Linked DNA regions of Homo sapiens: region 2 is linked to region 1. Evidence: fine-mapped expression QTL. A gene starts in region 1. The other region holds a variant in brackets. All regions are shown on one strand. Distances are from middle to middle. Region 1 holds the start of WNT3 (Wnt family member 3). Region 2 has its middle 25 kb from the start of ARL17B.

Evidence for each region. PIP is the estimated chance that this variant, and not a neighbour inherited with it, causes the effect.
Region 2: its variant is fine-mapped to the expression of WNT3 in ileum (GTEx, PIP 0.92).

The regions. Positions count from the first base shown.
Region 1 is chr17:46,815,787-46,821,126 of GRCh38, forward strand. WNT3 (Wnt family member 3) reads right to left here and starts at 2,906. Exons shown (of 5, transcript NM_030753.5): 1 at 2,732-2,906. The coding sequence starts at 2,811. It also overlaps a transcript of LRRC37A2 not described here. RefSeq lists an enhancer at 3,961-4,548.
Region 2 is chr17:46,383,863-46,389,234 of GRCh38, forward strand. It overlaps a transcript of LRRC37A2 not described here and the pseudogene NSFP1. Among named protein-coding and RNA genes, the nearest start is that of ARL17B, 25 kb to the left of the region's middle. The variant G/A (reference allele first, on the strand shown) is at 2,214.

The DNA.
Region 1 (5,340 bases):
CCCCTGCAGCCACCTTGTGAGACTTTTGCTTCCTGTTGGACCTTCCCTCCAGGCCCATGGCTGCCCACCAAACACCCAAGCTCAGGTGTCATTCATACCCACAGGTAGATGTCTGCAAAGATATTCACAGCCACACAGCCCTGGGCCCAGCACCTGGGGACAGGATCACAGGCGGACTCAGACACAGCCCTCACACAGCTATGGACTTGAGGCTCACTCTCCTCCTTACAAGCACAATCAGGTCATGGCCATGAGCACTGATATTCATGCACAAAGACATCTGTGGGGCTTTCCCCACACTGTCATGAAGGCATGCGCGCGCACGTACACACACACACACACACTCACACACACGCACGCACGCACACACACACTCACATGCCCAGTCATGAACACAGTCAAGCCCAGCGTCACAGGCAGACACAGGCTCTGACCTTTACATGGGCAAAGATACTTCTAGACTTCTCTCTGTCTCTTACACATGTACATACACACATCACAGCACCAGCCACTTGCTCACACTCGTGTGCAGACACACACAGCACAACCTGTCGTGGGCATGGATCCCCCAACACGCCCACACGATTTCACATCCATAGTAGCCCAGTTGCAGGCACAAACACTTTTGCACACAGAGACACACTGGTGTATAGAAAACACCTCTTAGGGTCATAGACCCAGAACACACGCACACACACACACACACACACACACACACACACACACACACCTCTCTCCTTGGCTTAGACAAAGCAGCATTCCTGTCCCCCACCAAATTCCCAAACAAGCCATGTGTCTAGCATTATGTTAGGGCCAATGTCTTGACCTTCCAGGTTTCCCCAGCGTTTCTTCCTATTGGGCAATCCCTATCTAGATGGTCCCCAAGATACCATTTCACACCAGAATCTACACCAACTGGAAGAGTGCCCTCTTCTAGTTCATAGGGCCGGAGAGACTGGTCTCTCTTCCTCAGTCCCTGCCACCTATGGGCCGCCAAACCTTTCCTTCCTACCCTCCCCCAACCCACCAGAGTCTCTGCGAAAGCAAGGCGAAAAACGGCATGGCCTTGGCCCGGGAATGGGAAGAGGGTCAGGAATGGCCGGGTGAGGCTGGACTGGTGTTGGCAGCAGCCTTTCCCCAGACTGGCCGAACCTCCTTCCTGAAGTCCCTGGCTGCCCTGGCCACCCCATGGACTTCTTTATGTGCTGGAAGCCTCAGGTTAGCCCAGCCCCCCGGAAAAGTGTGGGTTGGGCAGAAGAAAGACTTCCCCTTGGCTGGCTGTCCTGGGAGCAACTCCTAGCACCCTCTAAACAGAGACCCTTGGCCATGTCCCCACCCTCTCTCCCAGGAGCCCCAAACACCCAGACACAAATGCTGCCATCCCCAAACAACTGGAAGACTCGGGGTGTGGCCCCCAAGTCTCGCTGTCTCTGCTCCTCCTACCCTGGACTCTGGGTTGGCGAAAGGCAGGGAGTCTGGGGACCTGCAGGCGGTACCGCACCGTGGTGGCACTTCTTTCTGACTTTCACCCCGGGGGCCACAGCCCACTTCTCACTCACAGATCCCAAATTCTTCCTCCTCACCTCCCCCCGCCCAGGCCAAGGCTCTCCTATGTCCAGGAGGGGAAGATTCTTTAATTAAAGTTTTCCGGAATGTAGGGGGCTGGAGACTGGGGAGAGGCGGAGTGTAATTTAGAGAACTGGTTTCAGTGTCTTCCCCTCTGGCCCCTGGGACCTGCGGAGGGTGGGAGAGCGGCGATGGGGCCGCTCGGAAAACAAGGGGACTCCTGGAGCTGGGGCTCCCAAAGCGATGTTTATTCCTCACCCAGGCCCCCCAGACACGCACAGCCCCCCCCAAGCACTGCTCCCGGCTTCCCAGTCTTATTTACTAAAATGTCTTTTGTATCCACATTTCTCAGGGACGGAATTCTCCCTTCCCTCTCCCTTTCTCCTCGGTCCTCGGTTTTCCAAAAGGAAGAAATGTGACATGGAGAATTGGATTTTTGGTCAAAGAACAACAAGCCTACCCCTCCCAGACAACACATTTTCAAGGAACCCCCCTTTTGCCAGGGTGGACAAGCAAGAAATGAATAAAATCCGAATTCAATGGCATCCCGGATCAGCAAATACCATATTCACTTCAGAGGCTCAAGATGAATCTAGAGCGGTGGGGAGAATCTGATGAAATCCCCCCACCCACTCCCCTGCCCCGGGAGGAGCCCTGAAGCCTTTGGGGTCTGAAATAGGAAGGCAAAGGGGGGTTATTATGGGGAATCTCTTGATGGAGGCGCCGGCAGAGGTGGGGTGGCAGTGAAGGAACAGGATGGTTTTGCCCATGAAGACCCCAAAATGGAGAAGAGGAGTGGCTGGGCCCCAGGGACAGTGCTGGATTTCCAGAAACCCAACTGCAAGCAAATGGGGGGTCTTCGGGGGCCTCTAGATTGGGACGGGCAGAGGGTTAGGATCTAAGAATAAGAAACCTTCTGAGATGGGAAAAGTCCTCCAGCCCCTGCAGCGGGGAGCAGGGAAAATGGTGATTATCAGAGGAGCCAGGAGTTGGATTCTGAAGGCGACACCAGCAGAAAATCCAGGAGGGGTGGGCGGGTGGGGGGCTGGAGGGAGGCGAGGAGAGGAGCCCCAGCCCTGCAGCGGCCCACCCCCAGCCGGCGCCCCCACCTTCCCCGGACGCGGCGGAGAAACCGGGCCGCGGGCAGACAAGAGGCGAGTCTTACCACCAAATTGGGTAGCCAGCGAGGACCCTGGTGCCACCGAGCAGGAGGCCGAGGAGCAGCCCGAGCAGGTGGGGCTCCATTAGAAGAGGCGCCGAGGAGGAAGTTTGCCCGCGACCATGAAGAGGGGGAGCGACGCCCCCAATAGTTGGAACAAAGTCCACTTGAGATTGGAAATGACTTTCGGGCTTGTCAGAAGCGCACCTCCACCCGCAGCCGCCCCCCTCCCGAGCCCAGCGCGGAGCAGCCGGGTTTGAGGATGTCAGCGAGCAGCCAATCAGCGCCCGCGGCCTAAGGTAAGAGATGAGTCTGTAGTTCAGCCTGTCAATCACGCGCCCCTCCCGCCCGGCCCACAACTCGGGCTCCGGGAAGGGCATCGCCCAGCAAACTTGGGCAAAGCCCGCGCCCCGGACGCCGCGGGGCTTCGGGGGGACGCGGTGGGCCGGACCCTCTGCTACCGCCGCGGTCCCCCGCTGGCCAGGGTTAGGGCGCGGGGGCTTTGACCCGGGCGTTCACATGGCGAGGGCTTGGCGTGGGCATGAACGGGTGGCTCCTTTGCTGGCGGGGACCGTGACCCGTTGGGACGTGGGCCCGCGAGGAATCGAGGGTAGAAAGCACAGGGATGTTTCCAGAAGCCCCGCTCGGGCAGGTCAGGATCAGAGGGTGGGGGAACGCACCCCCTCCCAGCTTCCAGCCTCCCGAGTCCGCCCGCTCTCTGGCCTCTCGTCCTGGCCGCGGGAGGTCACTTCCCGGGTGTCCGAGGAACGTGCGGAAAAGTCCGCGGAGGCTCGAAGGTCTGGCTGCGGGCGGCGCCGGGGGACGGAGCCGAGTGTCATTTGAGTCTTTTGTCAGGGATCAGATCGGTATCGGGACCTCCTGCTGCCTTTGCATTTCCTGCAACTGACACCAGCGGCCAGTCGCATTTCCTGCTCTCGGAGTCGGGTCACTTTCTCCTCCTTGAGGGGTTCAGGCCCGACCTCTGGCCCGGGTCGGAGGCGTGACCCACAGCCTCAGTGGGATTCTCGGTTGGACCATCAGGGACCGGTGAAACGCGCAGCTCTGGCCGAGGGCGGCCCAGGTCCTTGGAAGACCTTGCTGCCCTCCGGAGCGCCCCTCACTGCCCGACCGTCCCGCCTGAGGCCCCGGTTCTACTGATAGGGAGCTCCAGCCTGGGGTTTGGCGATAAAGGCCCTTGCCCTGTGCGGACACCAAATGCCTCCAGTTACCCACCCCTCCCCACAGGAAAGGAGTCCTTCCAGGCCCCCTTCGGGCTTGCTTCCTCTCCTCTCCCTCTCCAGAGCGAGGAATTAGGTCTCAGCCCTGGGTGGTATTGACATCATGGTCAGGTTTTGGGGACTCACGCCCGGTCACCTGGGTGCCTTTCCCTAGGCCCCCTCCCAGGCCACCTGAGGCACCAGGACTCTGCGCAGCCCCGGTCTGGGGTGAAGGAAGCACTGCCGGTGGGGAGCAGGGACCGCTGTGTAGGGAACTGTGGCAGAAAGGGCAGAGAATGAGCCGACCCGAGTCCCACAGAGGCCTGGAACGGCGGGCGTTCCACGAGGTGAGGGCCATGGCTGAAGGAAGTCTTACGCCAGGGGGCCAGACATTCCTGGCCTTTGATCTGAGCCCCCCGTACCCACAGCTCCAACCTGCTGCCCCTTCTGGTCGGCGAGCCCTCTCCGCACGCGGCTGCTGCCGGCACAGGGAGCGCGGGGAAATGGCCTCGGGGGCACCAAGGGTCGGGAGAGCCGCCTGGGCTTGTCATGGCTCCTGCTGCGTTCCCAGCCCATTGCTGGACTGGAGGGGGTGGGAGGGGAGGTTGAAAGAGAGGAAGGAAGGGGAGGAAAAGGAGAATCCGAGAGGAGGAGAGAGAGAGAGGGGCTCAGAGATGAGAGAGACGCTGAGACAGAAACCAAGAAAACTGTCGGGGGGAGGCTGAGCCACCGGTGTGAGGAAGAAAGGGGCAGGGGGGAGGCGGAGAGCACCAAGGAGCTGCAAGGCGAAGAAAAATCGTGAACCTGACCAGGAGTGGTGAACCTGGTGGGGGCTGCAGAGATGGGGATCCCTAGAGATGCTCCTCATGGCTGGGCTGATTCTGGGGTGCCCTGTTTCTGATTCACCTGGAAAGAGGGTTACCATTGCCATGAATGCAGAGCCTCAGGACCAAGGCTCTGGCAGTGGAGAGCTTTCCACATACCTCCCTCTTGGATGGAGGCCTGCTAGGTCCTACCTGGAGTCCTGTCCCACCCACAGGGCTCCCAGGTGGCTTTCTGATCAGAGCTGCCTGCTGGAGTCCTGCCCAAGGGCTCGGGAGTTCCAGAGCCCCATGACAGTGGTGCTGAGAGCTGGGGAGGGCTACCTTCCCTGGCCACTCAGACACCACTGTGGATGCAGTATGGTGGGGCGACAGGGCCTGGACTTGATGGCTTCTTGGGGTCATTACTGGGCCTCAAGACTCCACAGGTGCCAACCCTGTGAGGTGGGAGCAAAAGATCCGAGGCTGTCGGTGGGAGTGTGTGTTGGCTGAGATATGCCCAGCCAGCATCCTGGGTGCTGTGGGCAAGAACATCATTCCCTGAGGGGTCATGTGTACCTGAATGCCTCCTCCAGGC
Region 2 (5,372 bases), 430 kb before region 1:
TTTCTCCACCCTGAAGTCATTTTCTTATAAAAGTTTTAAAATTTTGCCTTGCACATTTTGGTGATTGATCAGGAATTTATTTTTGTGTTTGGTGTGAATTATGAACTAATTTTATCTTTTCCATATGTATAACCAGTTGTCTCAATATCATTTATTGAGTCCATTTTTTTCCTTTACTGATTTGCAATGCTATCTCTGTATTATATCCAGTTCCCATATACGTGTGGGTCTAAGTGTCGACTCTATTCCGTTTCATAATTCTTTTTGTCCATATTTGCATCAATAACACTGTTTTAATTGCTGTAGCTTTAAAATTATTCTTGTTATTTCATAGGGCGTACTTTCATTACCTTTCTTAATTTGGCATTTCTTGGCTCTTTTCCGTACGAATTCTGGGAACAACTTAATCCCCACTCCTTTAAAAAAAAAAAAAAAGACACTTTGGCCTGGCATGGTGGCTCACACGTGTAATCCTAGCACTTTGGGAGGCTGAGGCGGGTGGATCACTTGAAGCCAGGAGTTCAAGGCCAGCCTGGACAACATGGCAAAACCCTGTCTCTACCAAAAATTAGCGGGCATGGTGGCACACGCCTGTAATTCCAGCTACTTGGGAGGCTGAGGCATGAGAATCAGCTTGAACCCAAGAGGTGGAGGTTGCAGTGAGTTGAGATCGTGCCACTGCACTCCAGCCTGGGCAACAGAACGAGACAGTTTTTTGTTTGTTTGTTTTAAAGACACTTTTAACCTTCCGCTATGGATTTTTGACCTACATTTTTCCTCTTGTATTTTATAAGAGTAGACACAGAGAGCACTTCAATAAAATTCAGCTCAATAACTTTATTAACCTGATCTCCTTTTCTTTGACTTTAAGCTGAAAGTGTTAATTTCTCACAACTTGTGCTCTATAGATTTGAAACCAAATCAATTAGCATCAGCTGTTTATGAGTAATGCAGGGTATTTTGGTCTTTTGCTAAATTCAGAAAGAAATGTTAAAGTGCTGATGGATTTGCACTAGCTGTATAGATCTTTGGTGGAGGAGGAAATGGGAAAATTATTAATTTCAGGTAAGAAGTCATTTTTGAAATGCAAGATTCATTTCTTTTTAAAATCACCACATAATAAAAACTTTAAGGGCTGCATTGGTGGGTTTTTAAAAAAAATTGTGAAGTGTTTTTAGTGTTATGTGCTGACAAATATTTTTGTAGTTGCTTTGACAAGCAATGAAACTACCAATTATCACTAATTCTGAGTCTTCCAATGAACCTCTGTGTCAAATTTTTAAATTTAATTATCCTATTTTTCTCCTAGAGAATAATATTGATATAATTTTGTGAACCATAGCAGACAGTTCCCATTGCTGAGAATAGAGCCTGGTGTGGGGATATTATGATTCTTGAATGGTTGAACAAGACATTTGCTTCTGAACATCTTAGTAAATTATCACTTCTGACAATGTCTGTAGTTTGAATTTTGATATTCTCTGCCAAGGTATTGAATACTCTAAATAATGTTGTTTATTCTATTATTTAAATCATTAGTATTATAGATCTAGCTTTAAACAGCTGCTGCACTCCAGTCCTTTTTCTTCACCTGCAGATATTGAGTCTGATAACTGTTTTGTATACATAGCCTTTCAGTAAATCTACTTATCAGTCATCAAATTAACTTAATTATAAGTTAAATGATGAGATGGACCAAGAGTGTTATTGAAATCTCATTTCCACACATTTCTTCTCTTCTTTTGTAGAAGGTAATGAAATGAACCTGTCAGTGTTCCTGTTTTTATGAAGTTTATTTCTCTTAGTACAGTGATTCTGATAGTGGGTTCTGCAGACCAGCAAATTAGCATTATCTGAGAACTTGTTAGAAAAGCAAATTTTCAGTTCCCACTTCAGGCTGACTAATTTAGAAACCCTGGGGTAGGGCTTAGCATTCTCTTTCAATAAATTCTCCAGGTGATTCTGATGTATGTTAAAGTTGAGAAGCATTCACTTAGTGTTTTGAGCTCTCCAATTTAGTTCCTTATAAATTGTTGAAGATATTTTTTCCAGATTTCTTTCCAAATATGTGCTCAACCTTGTTACTGATAGGTTTCAAGGTTATCGTCTTCTTCCCATTAATACCTTCATCTATATCCAATTTTCAAACTTTTAAGAAAGCATGGCTATTTTGCTGCAGTATGGTGAATTAGGTACTCTGACTGACCTTCCCA[G/A]ATAAACAATTTAAAATTCTAGATAATTTTTTTTTGGAGGGAGGACAGGGTCTTGCTCCGTCACACAGGCCGGAGTGCAGTAGTGTGAACATGGCTGACTGCAACCTCGACCTGTTGGGCTCAAGCGATCCTCCCACCTCAACCTCCCGAGTAGCTGGGGCCACAGGTGCACACCACCATGTCCAGCAAATTTTTTTATTTTTTGTGCAGATGGGGTCTTGCCTTGTTGCACAGACTGGTCTCGAACTCCTGGGCTCAAGCAGTTTTTCCACCTGGGCCTCTCGAAGTGCTGGGATTACAGGTGTGAGTGACTGTGCCTGGCAGATGAAATATTTTTTAAGTAAAAACCTTATGTGCATGGAGATAGCTGGCTGAAAAGTAAGGAATAATCAGGCCAAAAACTATGTGAAGGTGAAAACCCAGAGATATAAGCCAAGTACTGCTGCCTTGAGGACATTATTTGCAAATGACATTACTTGGAAAACCTAGTTAACTTGTGCTTGTGCCTCAAGAAGCTCAGAGAACGGAAGATAAAAGTAGTTTTCTGGTAGAACGTCCCACCTCTCCTGGTAAAGATGGTACCCCAAGGGTCTATACATCATAATAAATGAGAACTAGTAATAAACGTACCTTGTCTAAGGATCGGAAAGAAAAATTTCCTGCCTCAAACTTTGGTGGTGATGGGAAGGGTACAGAAATTCCCTGAGAAGTTTTACCCACAAGCTGACCTTCATGCAGGTTTGAATCCTGATTTTATATTACCTGGATGGTATGAAAATCTTAAGCCAGTAATTAAATATAAAAGTGGTACAAGAGTGACGATGCCTTAAAATGCCTAAGAATGCCTAAAAAGCAGCAAATACAAAGCTTCTTGGGAGAACCCATCTTGATCTTAGGATTTAGAAAATTCCTAAACATAAAGCTGTAAGAAATATGAACTCACATTCACAAAATGCAGAAAGAAATAAGATGCAATGAATGAGAGGAAGCAGAAACAATAAAGAGCAGAATCAGAACCTGCAAAGAGTTCACATATTGGAGTTAGCAGACACAGATTATAAGTACATATATTTAATATGCTTATAGAAAAAAAGAAATTTAAAATAGGAATGAGGAGCAAGTATACAAAAATGACCAGTGTACAAATTTAATAACAGATTAGACACAGCTAAAGAAAGATTTAGTAAAGTGGATCTGAAAAAATTGCAGTATAGAGGCAAGAAAATGAAAAGTAATAAAAGAGTTAAGAGAATACAGAGGGTAGAATAAGAAGGTTCAGTCTAGTCAGAATTCTGGGGCAGGGGAGCAGGGGCATGGAAAAGAATGAGGCAGAGGCAGTATTTGAAGAGATAATGACAGAGAACTGATGAAAAACAACCTACAAATTTAGGAAGCTAAAGAATCCCAGAAAGGATAAAAAGAAAAAAAATTCACACATAAACATTTTTTAAAGAAACTACATGATACCATAGAGAGGTCTTAAAAGCTGTCAGAGGCTGGGCATGGTGGCTCACGCCTGTAATCCCAGCACTTTGGGAGCCCGAGGAGGGTGGATCACCTGAGGTCAGGAGTTCAAGACCAGCCTCAACGTGGAGAAACCCTGTCTCTACTGAAAATACAAAATTAGCCGGGCGTGGTGGTGCATGCCTGTAATCCCAGCTACTCAGGAGGCTGAGGCAGGAGAATTGCTTGAACCTGGGAGGTGGAGGTTGCAGTGAGCCGAGATCGTGCCATTGCATGCCAGCCTGGGCAACAAGAGCAAAACTCCATCTCAAAAAAAAAAAAAAGCTGTCAGAGAAAAAAGATATTACCTTCAACAAGTATTTGGCTGTCAGCTGTTTTCCTGTCTATAATAATGAAAGCCATAAGACAGGGAGTAATATTTTCCATATGCTTAGAGAAAATAATTGTCAACCAAGAATTGTATATCTTGTGAAGAATGGGGGCAAAATTAGACACTTTAAAACAGACAAACACTCAATGTTGTAACCATCAAACCTTCCCTACTAGTGGAAATTCAGATCAATTTCCTGAAGGCTAAAAAAAAAAAAAAAAAGTGACCACTGATGTAAAGTCTGAGATTTAAGAAGGATTGAAGAGTAAAGAATAATGGTAAATCTGTGGATATATTGAAATAAATATTGGCTTTATAAAATGATGTATGCGGAGGTTTTAAAAATAGAACTAAATAGGCCAGGTGTGGTGGCTCACGCCTGTAATCCCAGCACTTTGGGAGGCTGAGGTGGGCGGATCACCTGAGGTTATGAGTTGGAGATCAGCCTGACCAACATGGAGAAACCTCGTCTCTACTAAAAATACAAAAAAAAAAAAAAAAAATTAGCCGGGTGTGGTGGCGCATGCCTGTAATCCCAGCTACTCAGGAGGCTGAGGTAGGAGAATTGCTTGAACCTGGGAGGCAGAGGTTGCAGTGAGCCGAAATCACGCCATTGCACTCCAGCCTGGGCAACAAGAGCAAAACTCCGTCTCAAAAAAAAAAAAAAGAACTAAATATATGATAACAACATCCAAATCAAAAGAGTGGTTAAAGTATTTTATGATCTTTATACTGTTGAAGAGAAAGGTAAAGCTATTCAATTAACTTTAGATTTTGATAGGTATGTGTATTAGTATTTTCAGAGTAACTACTAAAATAATATAAATATTAGGAATAATTTATAGCAGAAAAAACAATTTTTAAAAGGCAAGGAAGAAGTGAAAAACATAGAAAAGGTCAGATAAAGAGGAAACAATAAAATATAGAAATCAAATCAAATATATGGTAGACTAAATGCTTCATTCAGACAAAGAATGTCAGATTGGATTATTTAAAAGCAAGCAGGCCGGGTGCAGTGGCTCACGCCTGTAATCCGAGCACTTTGAGAGGCTGAGACGGGTGGATCACTTGAGATCAGGAGTTCGAGACCACCCTGGCCAACACGGCCAGCTGGCCATGGCCAGCTAATACAAAAATTAGCTGGGTGTGGTGGTGCACACCTGTAATCCCAGGTACTTGGGAAGGTGAGGCAGGAGAATCACTTGAACCCAGGAGGCGGAGATTGCCGTAAGCCAAGATCATGCCACCGTACTCCAGCCTGGGCAACAGGGTGAGACTCTGTTTCAAAAATAAATAAATAAATAAATAAAAGCAAGCAAACAAAC